Linked DNA regions of Homo sapiens. The protein of the gene in region 1 interacts with the protein of each later gene in a pairwise test. Each region holds a gene or a part of one and is shown on either strand. Other genes may lie near its edges. The genes, in order: FOXP4 and XAGE2.

What was found.
Region 2: the proteins of FOXP4 (region 1) and XAGE2 interact in a two-hybrid assay, tested with the Homo sapiens proteins (one large-scale study listed by BioGRID).

What each region holds. Positions count from the first base shown.
Region 1 is NC_000006.12:41,587,591-41,591,403, forward strand, and holds part of FOXP4 (forkhead box protein P4), read left to right. Parts: intron 1-202; coding exon 203-307; intron 308-1,053; coding exon 1,054-1,141; intron 1,142-1,282; exon of another isoform or gene 1,283-1,305; intron 1,306-2,180; coding exon 2,181-2,264; intron 2,265-2,372; coding exon 2,373-2,580; intron 2,581-2,680; coding exon 2,681-2,757; intron 2,758-3,630; coding exon 3,631-3,732; intron 3,733-3,813. UniProt on the Homo sapiens protein: Transcriptional repressor that represses lung-specific expression.
Region 2 is NC_000023.11:52,367,663-52,371,975, forward strand, and holds the start of XAGE2 (X antigen family member 2), read left to right. Parts: upstream 1-1,358; 5' UTR 1,359-1,552; intron 1,553-2,330; exon of another isoform or gene 2,331-2,344; 5' UTR 2,345-2,352; coding exon 2,353-2,433; intron 2,434-2,904; coding exon 2,905-3,010; intron 3,011-4,313.

The DNA.
Region 1 (3,813 bases):
GTGAGGGAGGGGGTGGAGCCCACGGACCGGAGGTTCACTCCCTCTCCACTCCCTCTCCCGGGGTGTACAGATGGTGCTTGGCCGCTGGGAAACCTGTATTGGGGCAGAAATGTCACCAGCAGGGGAGCTGGTGCTCAGCTGACTACAGGGCCGCTGGGGTCTTCAGGGTCCCTGATCGGCCACCTCCCTGCTGTCCTCCCAGCTCTTCCCACGAGGAGACCCCCGGCTCCCACCCCCTGTACGGACACGGAGAGTGCAAGTGGCCAGGCTGTGAGACCCTGTGTGAAGACCTGGGCCAGTTTATCAAGTAGGTGTCACCCCCAGCCCCTCCCCCAGCAGCCTTTCCCCACAGGGCCTCTCCCCCAACCCTGCCCACTAGCTTGCCCCTTCTGGGAGCCCTCCTCACTAGCTGTACTACTGTCCTCACTCCAGAGGGTTCTAGTTCTTTCTCTGCCCCCCACGGACTCCCTGATCACCCACTCCCTACCCTGTCTATATTTCTGGGCCTGCATTCCCCTGACTCCATCCCCAGCGCAGGGTGCGGGTAGGAGAAGGAGAGGACAAACATAAGCATTACTCCTCCCCCCACCCTCCCCTGCTCCCCTCCAGCCTCAGCCCCGGGGAGTGATGGCGAGTGACAGGCTGAGGGCCGCAGACAGGCAGGGCGGGAGGTGGACGGGCGGCTGGCAGCAGGCGGCCAGCTGCCACAGCCGTGCCAGGCTCTGTCACTGACTGATTAACTCCGCTGTCTCCCAGACCCTTGCAGCATCAGGGTCAAACAAATTGTTTTCACGCTTCGTCAGAGGTTTACTTAATTAGTTCATTTGCAATTAGATCTCTCTGTAGCTGGGATTTTAGCAAAGACATCAAAGGAGGCTGACGAGAAGGGAGAAGCCTTCCTCCATTGCCCCGTTTTTCCACCTCTTTCTCTTCTTTGTATCTCTTGGTCTGTCTGCTTTTCAGGCCATGGGTGGGATTAGAGGATAGGATGGGAGGATGGTGGCAGCAGGGAAACCGGAGCCAACTTTCTCTCCTCCTCTCTTCCCCTTGAAGACACCTCAACACAGAGCACGCCCTGGATGACCGGAGTACAGCCCAGTGCCGGGTACAGATGCAGGTGGTGCAGCAGCTGGAGATCCAGGTGTGGCCCGGAAGATGCTGGGGAGGGACATGGTGGGCTCCAGCCCCTGCCCACCCACAGCACTGACTTGCTAGGTGGGCTCTGTTGGGAGGGTCTCATGGAAGGGTCCTATGGTCAAAGCCACCATCTTATGCTTTCTAGGTCCTAATGACCATGGTTGTGAGGTGAGGACAGCTGGATTCTGAGGGGTAAACCAAGGTTGGGGGCGTCTCTGCTGGGAGGTCCAGAAGAGACTCACGCTACATAGAAACATCAAAAATAATTATTAGCAGCTAACATATGGAGCACTTACTTTGTGCTGTGCTAAATACTTTATATAGCTCAAGGAATCCTCTCAACAACCTTATGTGGTGGGTACCATTATTCTCCCCATTTTCCAGATGGAGAAAACAGGCACACAGAGCTAAAGTAACTTGCCTGTGAGTGGCAGAGCTGGGATTAGAACCCAGGCAGCCTGGCTTTCCCAAGGGAGTATCCCAGCTACTTGAGAGGGGACACTCAGCAGCACAGGGTTCCCAGGAAGCAACTCAGGGCAGCTCCTCTGTGCTTACCCATCTCCCTCCAGCACCTAGCAGAGCATCCTGCTGTGAGAGGGTGGTCATGAGAGACCCATTGAGTTTATGAATGGGGTGTCTGAGCCATTCATCAGTTCCTGCATCTGCATTCAGTATGCAAGGCCCTCACACACAAGTGCCACTGCACAAGGCACAGTGGCCGCCCCCCCGTGGGTGGGTAGGAAGAAGCCTCCCAACATGTAGAGGCAGGGATAAGCTCCAGCCAGGACGCACTGGGAGGGCTCAAATGGTCACCATCCAGGGGAGAAAGGGAGAGGCTTCATGGAGCTGGCAGCCCTTGAGGGGTAGAGCATTGCTGAGGCCTCCCTGGAGCGGGTCACAGAGGGAGCATGGATGCTGAGGCAAGGAGGCGAATGGGGGTGGGAATCGGCGGCCTTCTGAAGAGCCTGGCGGTGGAGGGGTGGGACAACACTGCCTCCAGGGTTCAGCCTCCCGCTCACCTCCTGCTTTGCCACCCTCCACAGCTCGCCAAGGAGAGCGAGCGGCTGCAGGCCATGATGGCCCACCTGCACATGCGGCCCTCGGAGCCCAAGCCCTTCAGCCAGCCAGTGAGTGCTGCTCCCCTCCCCGCCCCTCCCAGAGCCTTCCACAGACCCTGGAGCCTCGGGACCCCCACCCTCGGGCACTGGTCTCAGTACCCTCCCCGTTGCTCACAGCTGAACCCGGTCCCCGGCTCCTCCTCATTCTCCAAGGTGACCGTCTCTGCAGCAGACTCATTCCCAGATGGTCTCGTGCACCCCCCGACCTCGGCCGCAGCCCCTGTCACCCCTCTACGGCCCCCTGGCCTGGGCTCTGCCTCCCTGCATGGTGGGGGCCCAGCCCGTCGGAGAAGCAGTGACAAGTTCTGCTCCCCCATCTCCTCAGGTGAGGGTGGGCTGGGGGCTGCAGGGCGACAGCAGCGTGAGGCTGTTTTTCCCATCTGAGCCCCATATCTGGCTACCTCATCCTCTGCCTGTCTCCCCAGAGCTGGCCCAGAATCATGAGTTCTACAAGAACGCCGACGTCCGGCCCCCCTTCACCTACGCCTCCCTCATCCGCCAGGTGAGCAGGGCAGGTAGGAGGAGGGTGGGGAATGGCACACAGGCTGCTCCCCCAGCCCCCGCCACACCCCTGCCTCCAGGAAGGTCCTGGGGCCAAGCAATGGAGCTGTCCCGCTCCCTCTCACGTGGCGGTCTTCCCTCTCTGCTGTGCGGGGCTCTCCTGCAGGCTGGGCCCTGTCAGCCTGCTGCATAGGGTTATGTGTCTCTGGGGGTGCACACACTGTTCTTCTTACTGACACCCACCGTGGCATTCATGTGCTCATTTCCACGTACACAGCCCGCCATGATAGACTCAGGGTCACTCTTCGTCTCTCTCCTTTGTCTTTCCTCCCTCAAGCCCATGATCTTCATGTCACCAATGTTCACATAGTATTCACACTCAAGCATGAACTTACATCGACACATATGTCCTCCCTGATACCCACACAGGCATGTACACCTTCACACACATTCTTTCTGTCACACACACACTGTGCTTAGGGTACCTTTTGCCAAAATCAGGATAAATTCCAAACAGCCTCCACCCCGTGGACATCTCTCCCAAGAAAGACAGGACTGACTGCTTTCACCCTCGGTGCAGGGCCAGGTACTAAAGGCATTTTCTCTCCAGAAGCAGCTCCAATCCTTCTTGTACAAATACATAGCCCTTGGAGGCTCCTGCCCTCTTTATCCTTGGCCAAGCTATAACCAGCCTGTCCCTCTGAGGGGACCCACCAGCCACCACCCATCTTGTTATCCACACATTTCTGAGCAGGTCTTCTCACAAAGTGAACTCGGGGCTAGGCAGAAGGGAGAGGTACTGGGGGAGGGAACCCAGGGCTGTGACCCTTCGAGGCCCAGGCTGACGGTCCCTTTGCTTGTTCCTTCCCCGCAGGCCATCCTGGAAACCCCTGACAGGCAGCTGACCCTGAATGAGATCTATAACTGGTTCACCAGGATGTTCGCCTATTTCCGCAGAAACACTGCCACCTGGAAGGTGAAGCAGGCCCCTTCCACCTTCTGGGCCCCAGTCACCCTTGGACCTGCCATATCCCATGGAGACCAAGGCTGCCTAACA
Region 2 (4,313 bases), on another chromosome or scaffold:
ATGAAGGTAACCACCCCATGATTACATTACCTCCCACAGGGTCCTTTCCATGACATGTGGGGATTATGGGAACTACAATTCAAGGAGAGATTTGGGTGGGGACAGAGTCAAACCACATCATATGTATGGATATTTCTGAACCATACACTGTCTGAATGACCTACAGGTATATTCAGGGAAATCAGTTACCAGTCCAGAGATTAAAATGTGCAATAATACCACCTAAAAAAGGAAGAGGTGTGAATTTATTTAGTCTACAGAAGTGGTTCTATTCATTGGTAGCATGGCAGAAAACCTCAGACCAGAGAAGGAAGTGATTAATCAAAGTATGAATAAAAATTGGCCAAGGTGGGAGGATCACTCGATCCCAGAAATTGAGACCAGCCTGGACAATGTAGTGAGATTCTGTCTCTAAGTAAATAAATAAATAAAATAGCTGGGCATGGTGGCACACACCTGTAGTCCCAACTACTTCGGAGGCTGCGTCTTGAGTATTGCTTATGCCCAGGAGATCCAGGCTGCAGTGAGGTAAAGTCATGCCATTGCCCTCCATCCAGGGCGACAAAGTAACACCCTGTCTGGAAAAAAAAAGCATGTATAAATATAAACATTAAAATAATTTATTTCTGTCACAAAAGGTCTTTCTGAGACACATCAACCACTAAGGGTGACATGGGACTCTCTGTTCCCAAAGTTTCTGGATGCATGAGAATGGTAGGACAAGAGAGAGAGAAAAAAAAATATCTCTTAAGTCCCTTTCTTTCTACTACAAACATACTGGGGATTCTGGTTTTGGGACAGTGGGAAAACCCTGGCTGGCCTTGCATGTGCCTGACTCAGTGTGAACGCCCCTTACTGCCCAAGTCCCTTGTTGCCCATGCGCCTTACTGTCTGCCTTCTGTCCCAGCAGAGCTGTGCAAAGAGACATCGTGACTTCCTTCTGTCTTGCCGACTAGGAGTCAGCCAGTAGGTCTGCAGTTCAGTAGTCCTAGAAGTTTGAGTGTGAGTGAGTGTGAGGAGGAGCCTGCGGGCACGATCCATGGCCTCCTAGGTGGAAGGGCTTTGAGGTCCCCGTCCTTCTAACACGCAGCGATGCAGCCATGGCCTTGCTGTGGTGGGGGTGCCGGACAAGGGAGGGAGAAGGACCATAGATGGGAGGAGGGTCAGGTAAACAAGCAGTGAGTTTTGAAGGGGGAAACTATTTGTGGTATTTGAGTCCGCGAGGCATATGAAACTGCTTACAGACGATGCATTCCAGAGTCCTCAGTGGGAACCAGGGAGGGGAGGGAGGACTGCATGACGCGGGATGGGGTGGGGCGAGGCGGGGCACTGCAGCACACAACGCAGGCACCGACTTCAGTGTGCATGTTCCTTGGACACCTGCCTCAGTGTGCATGTTCACTGGGCATCTTCCCTTCGACCCCTTTGCCCACGTGGTGACCGCTGGGGAGCTGTGAGAGTGTGAGGGGCACGTTCCAGCCGTCTGGACTCTTTCTCTCCTACTGAGACGCAGCCTATAGGTCCGCAGGCCAGTCCTCCCAGGAACTGAAATGTGAGTGAATGTGAGGAGGAGTGAGCGGGCTTCCAGAGGGTCAGGCGGCGTGGTCTGTGGCCTCAGAGAGTAAAAAGCTTCCAGGTCATAAGGAAGGTGGGCCGCGGAGTGAAGGGGAGCCAGATGAAGATAGGGTGAATGCTCGGGGTGCTGTTGGAGGTATCTGAGTCCCGAAAGTGCCTGGAACTCCCAATGGGACAGATTCCAGACTTCTTGGTAGGGACCCAGGAATGGGCTGTGTAAGCGGTAAGAAAGGGGCCTGGGAAGTGGGAATGCTATGAGCTGGTGACCGCGACCCCGAGGTCTGTAGAGCTCCGGGTAGAAATGTCCAGCGAGGAGCGTCCAGTGATGTGTCACAACTTCTCAACTCCACCCTGGAGGTTCGAATGGGCGGGACTGTGCTTTCCAACAAAACCTTGATTTTAGGGAGGGAAATCGTCCAAACAAATGGGTGTGTGACGAAAGCCGTGGTCACTGCAGTTTTAATTCTCTAGCTGTATAAACTTAAATGTCTCCACTATGGAGAATCCAACTGTGAAACCAAATCTCATCAGAAATATCCTGTATCTTTTGCCAGGAGCATTAAGACATTGCTCTGCTAGATTGCCCAACTTAAGTGGCTATGCAAGCATTCGATTCAGAAGATGTACACACTTCTAGTTGCCCTGGGACTTACTTTCAAATTATTTCCAAACTTTTTTAAAAACTGAAATTTAACATTTGGCCATGAAAGTGGTCAAATACAGCTATCCTCTCAAACACACTTTCCCAATCACAGTATTCTGTTTGCAGAGTGAAATATGAGTTGGCGAGGAAGATCAACATATAGGCCTAGGCCAAGAAGAAGTTTACAGCCTCCTGAGCTGATTGGGGCTATGCTTGTGAGTGCTTTAATATTTTGATGTTTTTTATTAGCAGAAATTTCTTTTGTGATAGTGTTGTTGAACTAGTATAGATACACTGATAAAGGTCTTCCATGTTGATAAAAATGATCATGCATCTCATGAAGGAAAGACTAATCCAAGAGTATTACAATCTGATTTTGCCTTCATGGATAATCTTGTGTTCCCCATCATGACTTCCTCCTCATGCTTACTGATAACAGATTGCACACATCCAACCCAACATAGATTAAAATGGTTTCCAAAGCCTTTGAGGGTAACTGTCTTAGAGTAACCTCTCTTTGGGAAGAGTAACTTTGTGAAGAATAAGTATGTGGAACAGTGTTGGAGAAGTGTCTTTAGACTTACTTGTGATTAGAAATACCTGTGTATTCTGTATATTTGTATTATTGACATGTATTACTAACAAAACTTTTTATCTGCACACATACTGCCTCCCCTTTGTCCCAGGAACCCACTGATGAAGAGCCTAAAGAAGAGAAACCACCCACTAAAAGTCGGAATCCTACACCTGATCAGAAGAGAGAAGATGATCAGGGTGCAGCTGAGATTCAAGGTGCTGGGAAAGGAAAGAAATAATGCCTATAGGGGGAAGGAGGCCTATGTGTCCATCATGCCTTATGCCATGACCAGTAATAGGAGGAAAGAAAACATTAGGAAAGGATCTCAAGCACTTGCTCAAAGTAGGCTGGAAAAGTGAAGAGTATAGTTTGCAGCTTCATGCAGTCCCTGGATATAATAAATCTTCTCTTTTTTTCAAGATTTATTTTGTATGCTTGAAAATACATCCCTTGCTAAATCAGATGAAACTGTTTAATTTGATGTATCAAAATGTACATTATTTCACTTGATTAATTTGATCTTCTTAGAATGTTGCTGTATGATTGGCTCAGCCATGGTGTCCACAGTGTTATAAGCACCCTTTTATAGCATATAGAGTGCCAAGTCACCCTACCTTATAACACCCTGAATAAAGCCCATTTGCATAGGGATATTAGCCCTATTTTATAAAAAGGAAATGGTTGCTCAGAGATAGAGGCTTACCAAGAACGCTTGAGTCATGGAGGCAGAATTCATATTACGTTCCAAGGTCTGTGTTCTTCCTAACATCTACGTTATTAGAAAACGTGAATTATTTTGCTTAAAACGCTTAATACTCGAATGTGTCTGTACTGTAAGGTACTTGAGTATTGGCTCAGGAGAAAACAAATTCAGTGAAGCAGGATAGCAAATCCGGAAAAGGGCTCAATGAATGACAGCCACTGTTCCCTTTGATCAGTATTTTTTGACAGTATGTTTGGTAAAAGGTGGATAGTTCAGGACACTGGCATACAGGTAGGTATATTAGTATGCTTTTTAAGGAACTTTTAAAAGTTGCCTAAATACTTTTATAATTAGAAAACTCAAAGTATGATACAATTATCATGAAACAGAAATTGTGTCCTCAACAGATAGCATTTTCAAGCTAAAGTTGACGGAATTTGGACCATGGATTATTTTAGCAGTTCACGGTTAAGAGGTTTCCAGAATATGACTGTCAACAACACTCATTACTTTCTTTCACTCAATTTCCTGAATTCTCATGGGAAAACTGTGACTTTTTTTCCTCTTATTTTTGGTACTATATTCTCAATAGGATTTATTTATGAAAAGTTACATTTAGGGCCTTTGGACCTAAGCATAATTTTAATTAATTTTAACCAAATAATTTTCAAATTACCTCAGCAAGATATGGTTGTCACAATTGTAAGTTTTTGTCATAAGCCCAGGAATACATTGATCTAGTCTTTCAGAAAATTATCTTTGAGTTATTATTAAAATGCTATTCATGCAGCAAACTTCAGATATCTTACATAGTT